3 linked regions of the Homo sapiens genome follow. The protein of the gene in region 3 interacts with the protein of the main gene of each other region in a pairwise test. Each region holds a gene or a part of one and is shown on either strand. Other genes may lie near its edges.

Evidence for each region.
Region 1: the proteins of ERLIN1 (region 3) and C6orf120 interact in binary tests that used the Homo sapiens proteins (3 or more experiments, as listed by UniProt).
Region 2: the proteins of ERLIN1 (region 3) and BNIP2 interact in binary tests that used the Homo sapiens proteins (3 or more experiments, as listed by UniProt).

What each region holds. Positions count from the first base shown.
Region 1 is NC_000006.12:169,699,847-169,703,596, reverse strand, and holds the start of C6orf120 (UPF0669 protein C6orf120 isoform 1 precursor), read right to left. Parts: upstream 1,472-3,750; 5' UTR 1,435-1,471; coding exon of another isoform or gene 1,401-1,434; 5' UTR 1,161-1,400; coding exon of another isoform or gene 1,138-1,160; coding exon 562-1,137; 3' UTR 1-561. UniProt on the Homo sapiens protein: May be involved in induction of apoptosis in CD4(+) T-cells, but not CD8(+) T-cells or hepatocytes.
Region 2 is NC_000015.10:59,687,820-59,691,569, reverse strand, and holds the start of BNIP2 (BCL2/adenovirus E1B 19 kDa protein-interacting protein 2), read left to right. Parts: upstream 1-2,249; 5' UTR 2,250-2,435; intron 2,436-2,643; exon of another isoform or gene 2,644-2,838; intron 2,839-3,750.
Region 3 is NC_000010.11:100,165,345-100,169,094, forward strand, and holds part of ERLIN1 (erlin-1), read right to left. Parts: intron 2,063-3,750; coding exon 2,004-2,062; intron 1-2,003. UniProt on the Homo sapiens protein: Component of the ERLIN1/ERLIN2 complex which mediates the endoplasmic reticulum-associated degradation (ERAD) of inositol 1,4,5-trisphosphate receptors (IP3Rs).

The sequences.
Region 1 (3,750 bases), on a different chromosome or scaffold from region 3:
TTAGAGTTGTCATTATTGGACTGGTACAGGAACAAACTTTGTAAATACCTGCCTGCCAGGAAATCCTTTTTGTATAGAAAAGTACCATCACCTACTTGGGGTACAGGCATGAGGCTTTAGTCCAGGCTCAGGGAAGTGTACGTAAATCATTTCCAACTTGATTTTAGTAACTCTTGAAAACTTACACCAACTTCGGTTAGAATCTCCAGAGTAAAATTACAAAGTTATCAACCTTTTGATTTGTGTCACAGCATGAAAGGTTGCTCTATTTTATATAAACCTGTTACTGCAATCATTTTTAGTCAACCTGCCTAATGAAAATGGAGTCTAAACACTTTGTGCACAGTCCTTTTATAGGAATTATGATCTTTAAAATACTGTGCTTGCTGCTTTTCCTATTTTTGGGGTAACTGAGGTAACAAAACTGCGTATGGCTTTATTTTTCCATCCCTTGACTAAAGGTACCTAGAACTTCAACCAAGTACAAGTAGCAAGGTTCACAGCAAACTGCAATCAGCTTCACAGATGGAGGGTTTTATATCCCAGAGTGTGGTCAACGACTCAAAAGAGAATTTCAAGTACCAGTTTCAAAATGCTAATTAATATCGTCCAGAGAACAGATTCCTCCTCTTGCGAGGCGTCTTCCGGGGCACCAGCGTGCTTCTGGCCGGCATCTGCGCCGTCGGCGGGGTAGGCGGCCTCGCCGAACGGGTGCTGCTCGACCGTGCCGTCGTAGTACACCTTCATCTCGAACTCGCTCTCCAGGTGGGAGGGGTGTCCATAGACGCCGATGCCCACTGGGCGCCGGAAGTGCGCGGGGATGGACACGGCGTCCGGGCCGCAGGTGGCCGATTGCAGCTCGTAGTCGTCGAAGCTGGGGTGCAGGCTGCTGGCGGAGACGTACAGATCCGCATCTCCCTTGAGGCTGCGCATCCTGAGGACTATCTTGCCCTCGTGGTTCAGCCGCAGGTAGCTGTAGTTCCCGGCGCCTATCTGGCCCTGGACGACGTGCAGGAGCACCCACTCCTCGGGGACCTCCTCCTCGTCCGCGCAGCTTCCCGGAGACAGGACCTGCGAGGCTAGGAGCAGCAGCAGGGCCGTCGTCCAGGGCGCGGCCCTCCCGCGGGGAGCGGCCATGGCTGGCGGCTCAGCTCCGGGGCCTGCAAGTGGGTCAGTGCTGCTGGGGACACCGGAGGCGCTCAGCACCGGAGCCTGTCCCCGCCGTCCGCACGCGGGTCCACGGCGCGTCCAGGCGCCTGGTCTGTCGCTGGGACTGTCCCTTCCCACCCGCGTGAGGCCCCGGGGAGGAGGGGTGGGTTAACCCCTCCCCCGTAGCGCGGCGCCCACTCAGGGCAGGGGCAGGGGCAGGGGCAGGGCCGCTGTGGCACCCTCGGACTCACCACCACTCCCCGCAGGGGGCCGCGCTTTATACATCCGGACCCGAGGCCGGAGCCTCGCCGGAGGCGGAAGTGACGCTAGGTCCGTAAGTGAGCCGGCCGGAAGCGAGGCTTCTCCAGCTGTCGCGAGATAGCGAAAGGGGCGTGGGCGCGAGGGGCGGCGGGCTAGTAACCATAGCGGCTCGCGTGGGTCGGCTGGCAAGTAACCATAGCGGCGAGCGTGGGGCGGAGTGTGGCTCGGTAGTCCTCTGCGTGCCCTCCTGGGAGCTGGGTGCTGTGAGTCCTCCCCTAGCGGGCTGGTCTCGGCGCGGAGTCGGCGCCGAACCCGAGCTGCTGCTCTGGGGCGTGTGCCTAGGGCGCAGGGCTGGAGCGCGGGGGCTGCGCGGTTGCTCGCGGCTCCGCTGAGGTCTCTAGGAAAGGGGGCGATTTGAGGGTTCCGCCGTGACCGCTTCCAACGGCGGACACGCGCGCTCTGGACCAGAGCCGTTGCCCGCTGTCTCGTCACCCGAAGCCTCCTCCTGACGCCGTGCTAGTGCGAGGGTCTCCAGGGGAATTCGGGGCACAAGTCGGGCCGGAGCATCCGGGCGGCCGCTTGAGATCGGCGCTTTGAGAACTGAGCGCATGTGGAGTTCGGAGGAAAAGGGCTCAGGTGGTTATTTTAATTAAAGCAGCTGTGTATAAGGAGCACTCAGATCTCTTTAAAAGATTCAGTAGTTTAGGAACGAACCAGGGCTGTAGAAATGCCCGGCCTCCTGCACCTCCCGTCGGTTCTGAGCTCCGAGGGCGGGAGCGTGGACCCTGAGGGCTCGTTAATTATGCCCCACTGGCCTTTCAACCTGCGTGGTAACTACCAGGCTAGGTTTTCCTAACTCGAGCCAAACAGCAAGTTTCTGACTTGATTATCACTAAAAGAGAAAAATTTCGATCTTTTCTAATCAGAAGGGAGTAATTTTCTCTTTTTAAAAATATTCGTATGTACATTAAAAAAACGGAAATGCACAGGATTTTATCAGTGGTACTCCTCGAGTAGTAGAGTTTTCATCTTTTTATGTATTTCTAAATTTTCTACAATTTACACACACTGCTCTGTACCAGTAAAGGAGTATTAACTCTACAGCTTCCAGTTTATCTGGGATTACTATCTTGTGTTTACTGACTTAACTTTAAGACTATGGTATCTTTAGCAATCACTTGTCACTGCCTTTTCCTGAAGTGCTTACCTAGTGTTAGGTGCACTAGAATCTCACTAAAATAATAAATTTAGTTTATTTTCCCTGACTTGTTCTGTGCATGTATGTACATGGATATTCCTGGGGATATCCTGTGACATTGATTATCCCCTAGGGTTGGCACAGCAGGGAGAGGAGGTAGGGATAAAAAACTTTATTATTTCTGCATTGTTTAAATGTTTTGTATTGTATTGCTTTTGTAATTCAAAAAAATGTTAAACAATTTATATTAGTGGAGGTAGGTTAAGTGCTGTAGCAATTCACCCCAATAGAACAGTTGCATGTTTCTTGCTCACACAGTCCTGTGTAGCGGTTTCTAGTCAGACGATTCCTTTGGGCAGCTCTCTGCAAGCTGCAGCCTAAAATTCTTCCATGTTGTGGTTTTTTTCCTTAGGCCCTCTGAATTCTCCGCATTTAGCCAGTGGGTGGGGAAAGAAGAGAGGCAGTGCAGGAGGAATTTATGGGCCAGGCACTCAACGACTACATGGCTGCACTTAATTGCAAGGGAAGCTAGGGAGTGTAGTTTAGTTCTGTGTCTAGAAGGAAAGGGAAGTGGCTTAGTGGAAAAGGAACAGCACTTACCGTAGTCTCTCTTCTGGTGACCAGATCTCTGCTCCACTCTTGATCCCACATGGAGAACACACTCTCCCCACCCCAAGGGGGACACTTTGTCAAGGTGCCTAGTGCAACACAGAACATTTCTCAGGATTGCACAGTTCTCTCCATCAGGCCTGGCTGTGGTTCCTCGTGGTCCAGAGCCCTATGGACTAAGAAGACAAACTAGTTGCTCTCCCCACTAAAATGCAGTGGTTAAATATGACCATGGTTTTTGTAACCATCTCCCTTTTGGAAAAGGGAGACACATGGCAGACACTGGTCTATAGCAGTTTTGAAGTGATGCTGGGGTGGAGGTGGGAGGAATTTCCCAACTAGACCCTGATTCTGCTATCTGGGAGGAATTCCCTTGTCCATTGTTCTTTTTCTTTCCTTTGAGACAGGATGTCACTGTTGTCCAGGTTGAAGTAGAGTGGCACAATCACAGCTCACTATAGCTTCAACCTCCGTGGCTCAAACGATCCTCCCACCTCAGCCTCCCCAGCAGCTGGGGCTACAAGCATGCACTG
Region 2 (3,750 bases), on a different chromosome or scaffold from region 3:
ATAAAAAGATAAGTAATAGGATGGCTTACTCGAAACCAAAGCAAACACTGATCAAGCTTATTAAATAATAAAGTTACTAAAATGAAGAAGGAACTGAAGATCTTAAAAAAAAGAAATCACATAACTATATATGATTTCCAGTGATTTTCTGCCACCCTGTGGGGAATTCTGCACATTGCAGAACTGAAGAAGCAAAGTATGAAACTACAAAAACTTCTGTAAATCAAGATGAAATTTCTTGGCCCAAGTAGTTGTTTAGCTAAAGCTCTGTTGATCAGTTTTGTTTTCTCTACTAGCTATTTAGTGAAATTGCTAGACTAGGATAAAAAGAATACCTAATACTTAAATGTGATTACAATATGACAACCAAGGTCCTAATACATATATATGAATTCATCTCACAAAAACCCTATAAGGTAGGTACTATTTTCTTCCCATTTTATCAAAGAGACGGACTTTAATCTACCAATGGTGGGTAAATGTTGCCAAAGCAATGTGAAATCCAGGCAGAATGCTGCATTTTTAGTCAATGATTTAAAATTTTGAGCTTTTCTGTTCCCCTCAGGCCTGATCGTACCCCAATGGAATCACCCAAATACTTGATGCTGAGCCTTTCTATGGATTTATCAGATGAAACTTTGGAAAGGGACTTTTTTTTTTTTTTAAGACAGGGTTTCGCTGTCACCCAGGCTGGAGTGGAGTGGCGCGATCTTGGCTCACTACAACCGCCGCCTGCCAGGCTCCAGAGAGTCTCCCACCTCAGCCTCCCAAGTGGCTGGGACCACAGGTGCATGCCACCAAGCCCACCTAATTTTCTTCTTTTCTTTCTTTCTTCCTTTCTTTCTCTTTGCTTCTTTTTCTTTCTTTCTTTCTCTGTCTCTTTTTTTTTTTTTTTTTTTAAGAGATGGGGTCTCGCCATGTTGCCCTGAGGTCTGGCGATCTACCGACTCGGCCTCTCAAAGTGCTGGGATTACAGTCATGAGCCAGCACGCCCAACTGAGAGAGACTATGATGTTCTCCAAACAAATCTCATTTGGTTGAAACTCTACAGCTGAGTATGGTCTAATTTGAGTAGTTTACCTTGAGTACTCTAACCATGGTCTATAGACCTGGGCTCTTCTGAGAACTGTTTGCAAATGGTTCACAGAGAGAGAGTAGAAAACTCTATGTCAATTTTGCAGGTAATTTTATGGCTGTTAACTCTAACGATAAAAAGTTTTGACTTGGACTTTGTATGTCTTTTCATTTTTCTGTTTTATTAACTTGTCAAAAACTAATTGAAAATTGAAAAAAATAAACCGACCGTTCCCCCAGTGAAGAGAAGCACTGCTGTAAAGCTTTTCACACTCAAATATTACCAAACTCTAAGGTCGCTTCTGAGGCCTAACTCCCCAAAATGATGCCTCGGATATTTTTCCTCGCCTTATTTCTTTTTTTTCTTTTTCTTTTTTTTTTTTTTTCCTTTTTCCTTTTATTTGAGACGGAGTTTTTGCTCTGTTGCCCAAGCTGGAGTGCAATGGCACGATCTCGGCTCACTGCAAACTCCAACTCCGCCTCCGCCTCCGCCCTCGCCTCCTGAGTAGTTGGGATTACAGACGCGCGCCACCACGCCCAGCTAATTTTTGTTTGTTTAGTAGAGACGAGGTGTCACCATGTTGGCCAGGCTGGTCTCGAGCTCTTGACCTCCGGTAATCCACCCGCCTCGCCCTCCCAAAGTGCTGGGATTACAAGCGTAAACCACCGCGCCCGACCTCCTCCCCTTATTTCATCCATTTTATAATTCACATTATTGATCGCTGATAATTGCACCTATTGTAATGATACTGATAATTGCACCTGTTGTAATAATATTGATATTGATAATTGCACCTATTGTATTACAATATTATTATTGATATCGATAATTTCACCTACTGTAATGATCAATAAAGGCAGGCAGAAAGAAAACAAAAGTAACTGAAACTACCAGGCAGCGTCCCTGCGAACAGCAAAGAGGGAAGAAACGCCTTGAGGCGTAGTAACGCCACCAATAAGGAGTCGACGCGACGGGTCCGCCCACAGGCAAGGAAGGCCGACCCCGCGAGTGCAGGCGCGAGCGCTAGCCCGTGACGTCTGAGGGGGTTGGGGGGATGCTGTGTGGGTTTCAAGAAGACGCCACGCCTCCGCCGCCGCCACGCCCCCGCCGCCTCCACCGCCGGCTGCCGCGCCCGGAGGAGGTCGGGATGTTATCACTTCCGCCGGGGCTTCTCACTGTGTCCGGGTCAGCTGCTGCCGCCGACGCCGTACCGCTGCGGCCGGGGGATTGGGCCGGGGTCTCCACCGCCGACCGAGGGGAGCGGGCTCCGCTCGGCCCTGCTTTTTGCGACCTGGCCGTCAGCCCCACGTCGCCGGCCTGGAGGGGCGAAGAGGACGAGGGGGCCAAGGCTTCCTCCGGGGTGAGTGCGGCCTGGGAGAACTCGGCACGGTGGCTCCGGAGCTGGACTGGGAACCGGCCTAGGGGCGAAAGTCTGTCGGGCGCGTGCCCACGACGTCCGGGGAGAGGAAACCCAGAGAGTTACCCTTGGTAGGGGGAGCCATAGAACCTGCTCGGGAGGTGCTTCCTGGATCCCCGCCCTGCTTAGGTCCCCGCCCTTGGCTTGGGTCCTGTTTGTATTTGGCAGTTTGGCCCCCCACCCCGTCGCTTTTCCGTTTCTGGTAGTTGTGCTCGGGATGGAACCTTGCCCCTCCTCCGCTCCCCCACCCTTTTACCCTGGTGTGGGTGAAGTGGCTGGGCTACGATGGTTCAGTATTTATGACCAGCGTCCGTCCTGGTACAGAACAAAGAAACTTGGACTTCTGGTATGCCTCGTAACCGCGGGGAATAGACACGGAAGCAGCATAAGTAATCAGGGCTTTAATAGATCTTCCCTAGTACGCTAAACCAAATACAGAGTGTGTACGTCAAAAGCCGAGTCCCCGCGTGAATCTAGACACAACCCTTTCTGTTTAAATACCTGGCAAAATGGTTTGGATTTCTGGATGCATTTCATGCCGCTGGAGAGTTACTTGTCTGTGTCTTGTGAGCTCTTTGACGAAACAGCTTTTCCGGTGTTGCATCAAGATAGTTACGGTGCCTCCTATTTATTTAATTGAATAAACTATGTGATTGCATTTTAGTGTTGCTTTTTTCATTCTCACCTTCTCTTGATTAGGATCTCTATTTCACCTAATACCTGATTTCGTATTTTCAATTAAATGTAGTTTTTCTAACATTTTATAGGAATCTCTGCAATTGTAGAAACAAATTCTGTAATTTGTAAATGGATGTTTCCTCAAAGTTACAACTGACCTTACCCAATTAAGTTACCCCTGCAGACTAGTTTCTTGATCATTTTGCACATATTCTTAGTTCTTTTTGGTTTACATTTTCTCTAAACTCTATTCCTAGTCTTCATATTCTCTAGTGCAGCCTAATACTGCTGGGCTTAGACCGGAAGTATGACAGATCCACTTCTGCAAACGGAACTTGAACTAGATTATCATAAGTCAGTGCTATTATGGTCTTCAGGCATTACAAGCCCTTTGAAGCTAAGTGCGGCCAAATCAGGCATTACAGGCTTCTTCTGTATAAAATTGCCAGTGCACTGGAGACGGTGTGCTGTATTAGAAACAGTTCCGGACTAGATATGGGGACCAGGATGTAGTGTCATTGCCTCATATATAAGATAAAATGATGATAACACAAGTGTCATGCATCCCAAAGTTGCTGGT
Region 3 (3,750 bases):
GAAAACACACAATATTCATTTTTCCGTCACCAGAAGCAATCTTTTTTTTTTTTTTTTTTTGAGATGGAGTCTCACTCTGTCACCCAGGCTGGAGTGCAGTGGCACTATCTCGACTCACTGCAAGCTTCGCCTCCTGAGTTCACGCCATTCTCCTGCCTCAGCCTCCCGAGTAGCTGGGACTACAGGCGCCCACCACCATGCCTGGCTAATTTTTTGTATTTTTAGTAGAGACGGGGTTTCATTGTGTTAGCTAGGATGGTCTCGATCTCCTGACCTCGTGATCCGCCCACCTTGGCCTCCCAAAAGTGCTGGGATTACAGGCATGAGCCACCGCACCCAGCCTAAGCAATCATATTTAAAGCCTAAGACATGCTGACAGTTTAATAAAATTTTCTTTTTGAGACAGAGTTTCGTTCTTTTGCCCAGGTTGGAGTGCAATGGCGTGGTCTCGGCTCACTGCAACCTCTACCTCCCCGGTTGAAGCGACTCTCCTACCTCAGCCTCCCCAGTAGCTGGGATTATAGGTGCCTGCCACCATGTCCAGCTAATTTTTCTATTTTTACTGGAGACAGGGTTTCACCATGTTGGCCAGGCTGGTCTCAAACTCTTGAACTCAGGTGATCCGCCGGCCTCAGCCTCCTGAAGTGCTATGATTATAGGCATAAGCCACCACAGCCCGCCTATAAATATTTTTTCAATAAGTGGATCACATCCATAATCTACCCAGCCTGGCAGTCTACATTTTATACTTTTAAAAGAAGAGTTCTTTGTCTACAATGAAAAAGAGAAAACAGGCTGGGTGTGGTGACTCAAGCCTGTAATCCCAGTACTTTGGGAGGCCAAGGCAGGAGGACTGCTTGAGCCCAGGAGTTTGAGACCAGGCTGGGCAACAGGGCAAAACTCCGTCTCTATGAAAAATACAAAATTTAGCTAGGTGTGGTGGCATGCACTGGTAGTCCCAACTACTCAGGAGGCTGAGGTGGGAGGATCGCTTAATCACTTGAGCCTGGGAGGTTGAGACTGCAGTGAGCCGTGATTGTGCCACTGCACTGCAGTCTGGGCAACAGAGCAAGACCTTGTCTCAAAAAAAAAAAAATTAAGAAAAAGAGAAATAAAACTCTGTATGAGCTCAGAGAAGGTATGAGGGAAAAGGAAAATATAAAAGAAGAAAAAAACAATAAAAATCTGCATGGTAACAAAAAGGACTCAGAAGTAAACAACCTCATAAAGTAGTATTACTGCTCCTTGGACTTCCAGTATTTATACATCTGTGGTATCCTTGACTTGTGCAAATTTATTTTTCCAGCGTCTTATACTTTCCCTTTTAACACATCAGCCAAATTTCCTAAAGACTTTTATTTCTTCTTTTCAGTACCAGTCATACGAAAACAATATTGCCATTTCAAACACAGTAAGTATTCCCCTAAAAGGGATCCTGTCAGAAACTAATTTCATGTCTTCTCATTCCCAGTCAGCCCTGGATACATAAAAGAGAAGACTACCAGGAGTCAACAGAAGCAAGGCTTCCCTAGAGGCACATTATAAAGAACCAGGTCTAATTTTAGATATACAATCACATACAATGGAAAACCAAACTTTATACCAACAAGGTATCTATTCCTACCATTACAACACAGAAACAAAATATGAGCACTCTCTTCAACCCTAACGGCTTCAGGACTCTTTCCTCTATTAAATATTTAATTCAAGGTACTATTCATATAAAATTATAGCTCCTTAAGCTTCCAGCAATAGTTTTACAGCAAACTGCATCTTTAGCCACTGAAACTGCTCCTGAAATGTCCATACATAAAGAGAACACTAGTAAGAGTCTAGTGGGAATTAAGACACAAGAATAGGCAATATTACTAGAGTAAGAGTAAAGAAGATAAGACACATACTCCACCCCAGAGTGTATTGTCTCACATGTTTCCTCTAGACTGGAATATTAATATGCAGACAGCCCTAAACAGAAATATTGGGATCCCATGCATATTACTCACATTAACTCAAAATTTCTTCTTATGGCTTCTGGGATTTTGGGTTTTGTAACACGCACAGCCTAAAAAATAAAAGTGAAAAAGCCAAAGTATATTTGAAAGATAAATCTTCAAATTAAATCTTCTACAGAAAAGCCCCTCAAATGATACTAATCTAATAAACAACAGCTATAATATAGCGGCCTACTAACACGTTTGGGGATCCCACCAGAACATTTACTTTTCATGCCATCACACCAAGAATCAAAGACAAGCTGCTTCTTATTTCCTTACACAATGCCAGATTACAGGAAAAACCATCTACCCACTGAGGAAACAACTGCCTTATGAAAAAGGTTCTCACTTAAAAGATGTTTTACAAAGGTCGTTAGATACTTTTGCTTTCTTTTTCAACCCTGTAAACCAAAGAAGCCGGGAAGGCAAAGTTCCAAGACTGAAATTGTAAAGTCAGAAACAATTAGTCAAATACAAAAACAAACAAAAAAACCCAGGTTGGTGTATACAATTTAATACAGTGAGTAGTGAGTAAATTAATCTATCACTTCCAACCCCTGCAATCACTTGGTATTTGCTGTAAGTAAACAGCCCACTGGCTGAAGGAAAACAAATATCAATTAAAAGCTTATATTCTTTCTTCCTTAACTCTCACTTAGAACAAAGTCTGTCTTTGTAGAGGCTGTTTACCAGACACTTTGTTTCCCTAATCATAGTGTTCTTTGACACAATTAAGATTATCTACCTGGACAGTACTGTTTTTTGAAGGCTGACTTTTCTACATCAAGGACTTGATCTCTCAAAAGCTTTTGATTTTACTAAACATACGATACCCCGCCGCCCCACCTATACTGCAAACACACACAAAAAACACTTTGCTGGTCTGAAGAAGTTTTCCTTCTGAAAACTGGCTAACCTTTTAAGAATAACAAAGCCTTTAAGCACTTAGTCTTCTTTAAAGGCTTTTAAAACTTTTAAGCGATATAGCATTTCCTATATGAAATAGATGAGTCAAATTTGTAGGTAATTTTGAGGACAATCATAACTAAATATAAGGATTACAGTGGAATGGAATAAGCAGCTGAAGGCTGTGTGGAAAAAACTCACAACACACTGGCAGTGACACATGTGAGGCCTCACAACTCAGTGGAGACATGCAGAAGACAAATAAAAATTCAGGACCAGATTTTGTGAGATGTCAGATTTCACCATGTGACTAGCAGACATAAGATTACTTCCAATATGGATTAATATGATTCAAGGAAGCACTGTCATACTGCATTTAATTAAGAGACTGGCCACATATCTTTTTAGCCTTATTAAAAGAAGCGTAAAGTAGGACTTTTTTTTTTTTTTTTGAGATGGAGTTTTGCTCTTGTTACCCAGGCTGGAGTGCGGTGGTGCAATCTCAGTTCACTGCAACCTCCGCCTCCCAGGTTCAAGCGATTCTTCTGCCTCAGCCTCCTTAGTTGCTGGGATTACAGGCATGCGCCACCAAGCCCGACTAATTTTTGTATTGTTTTTTAGTAGAGACAGGGTTTCACTGTGTTGGTCAAGCTGGTCTCGAACTCCTGAACTCAGGTGATCCAACCACCTCGGCCTCCCAAAGTGCTGGGATTACAGGCGTGAGCCACCACACTCGGCCAGGACTGTCTTTTGAAGACTCCTATTTTGCTGAATGAGGCTGAAGAACATACTACATTGTGCTTGCCAATCTTGGGAAATCTCACAGATTTTCAAATATGTGAAAACATAA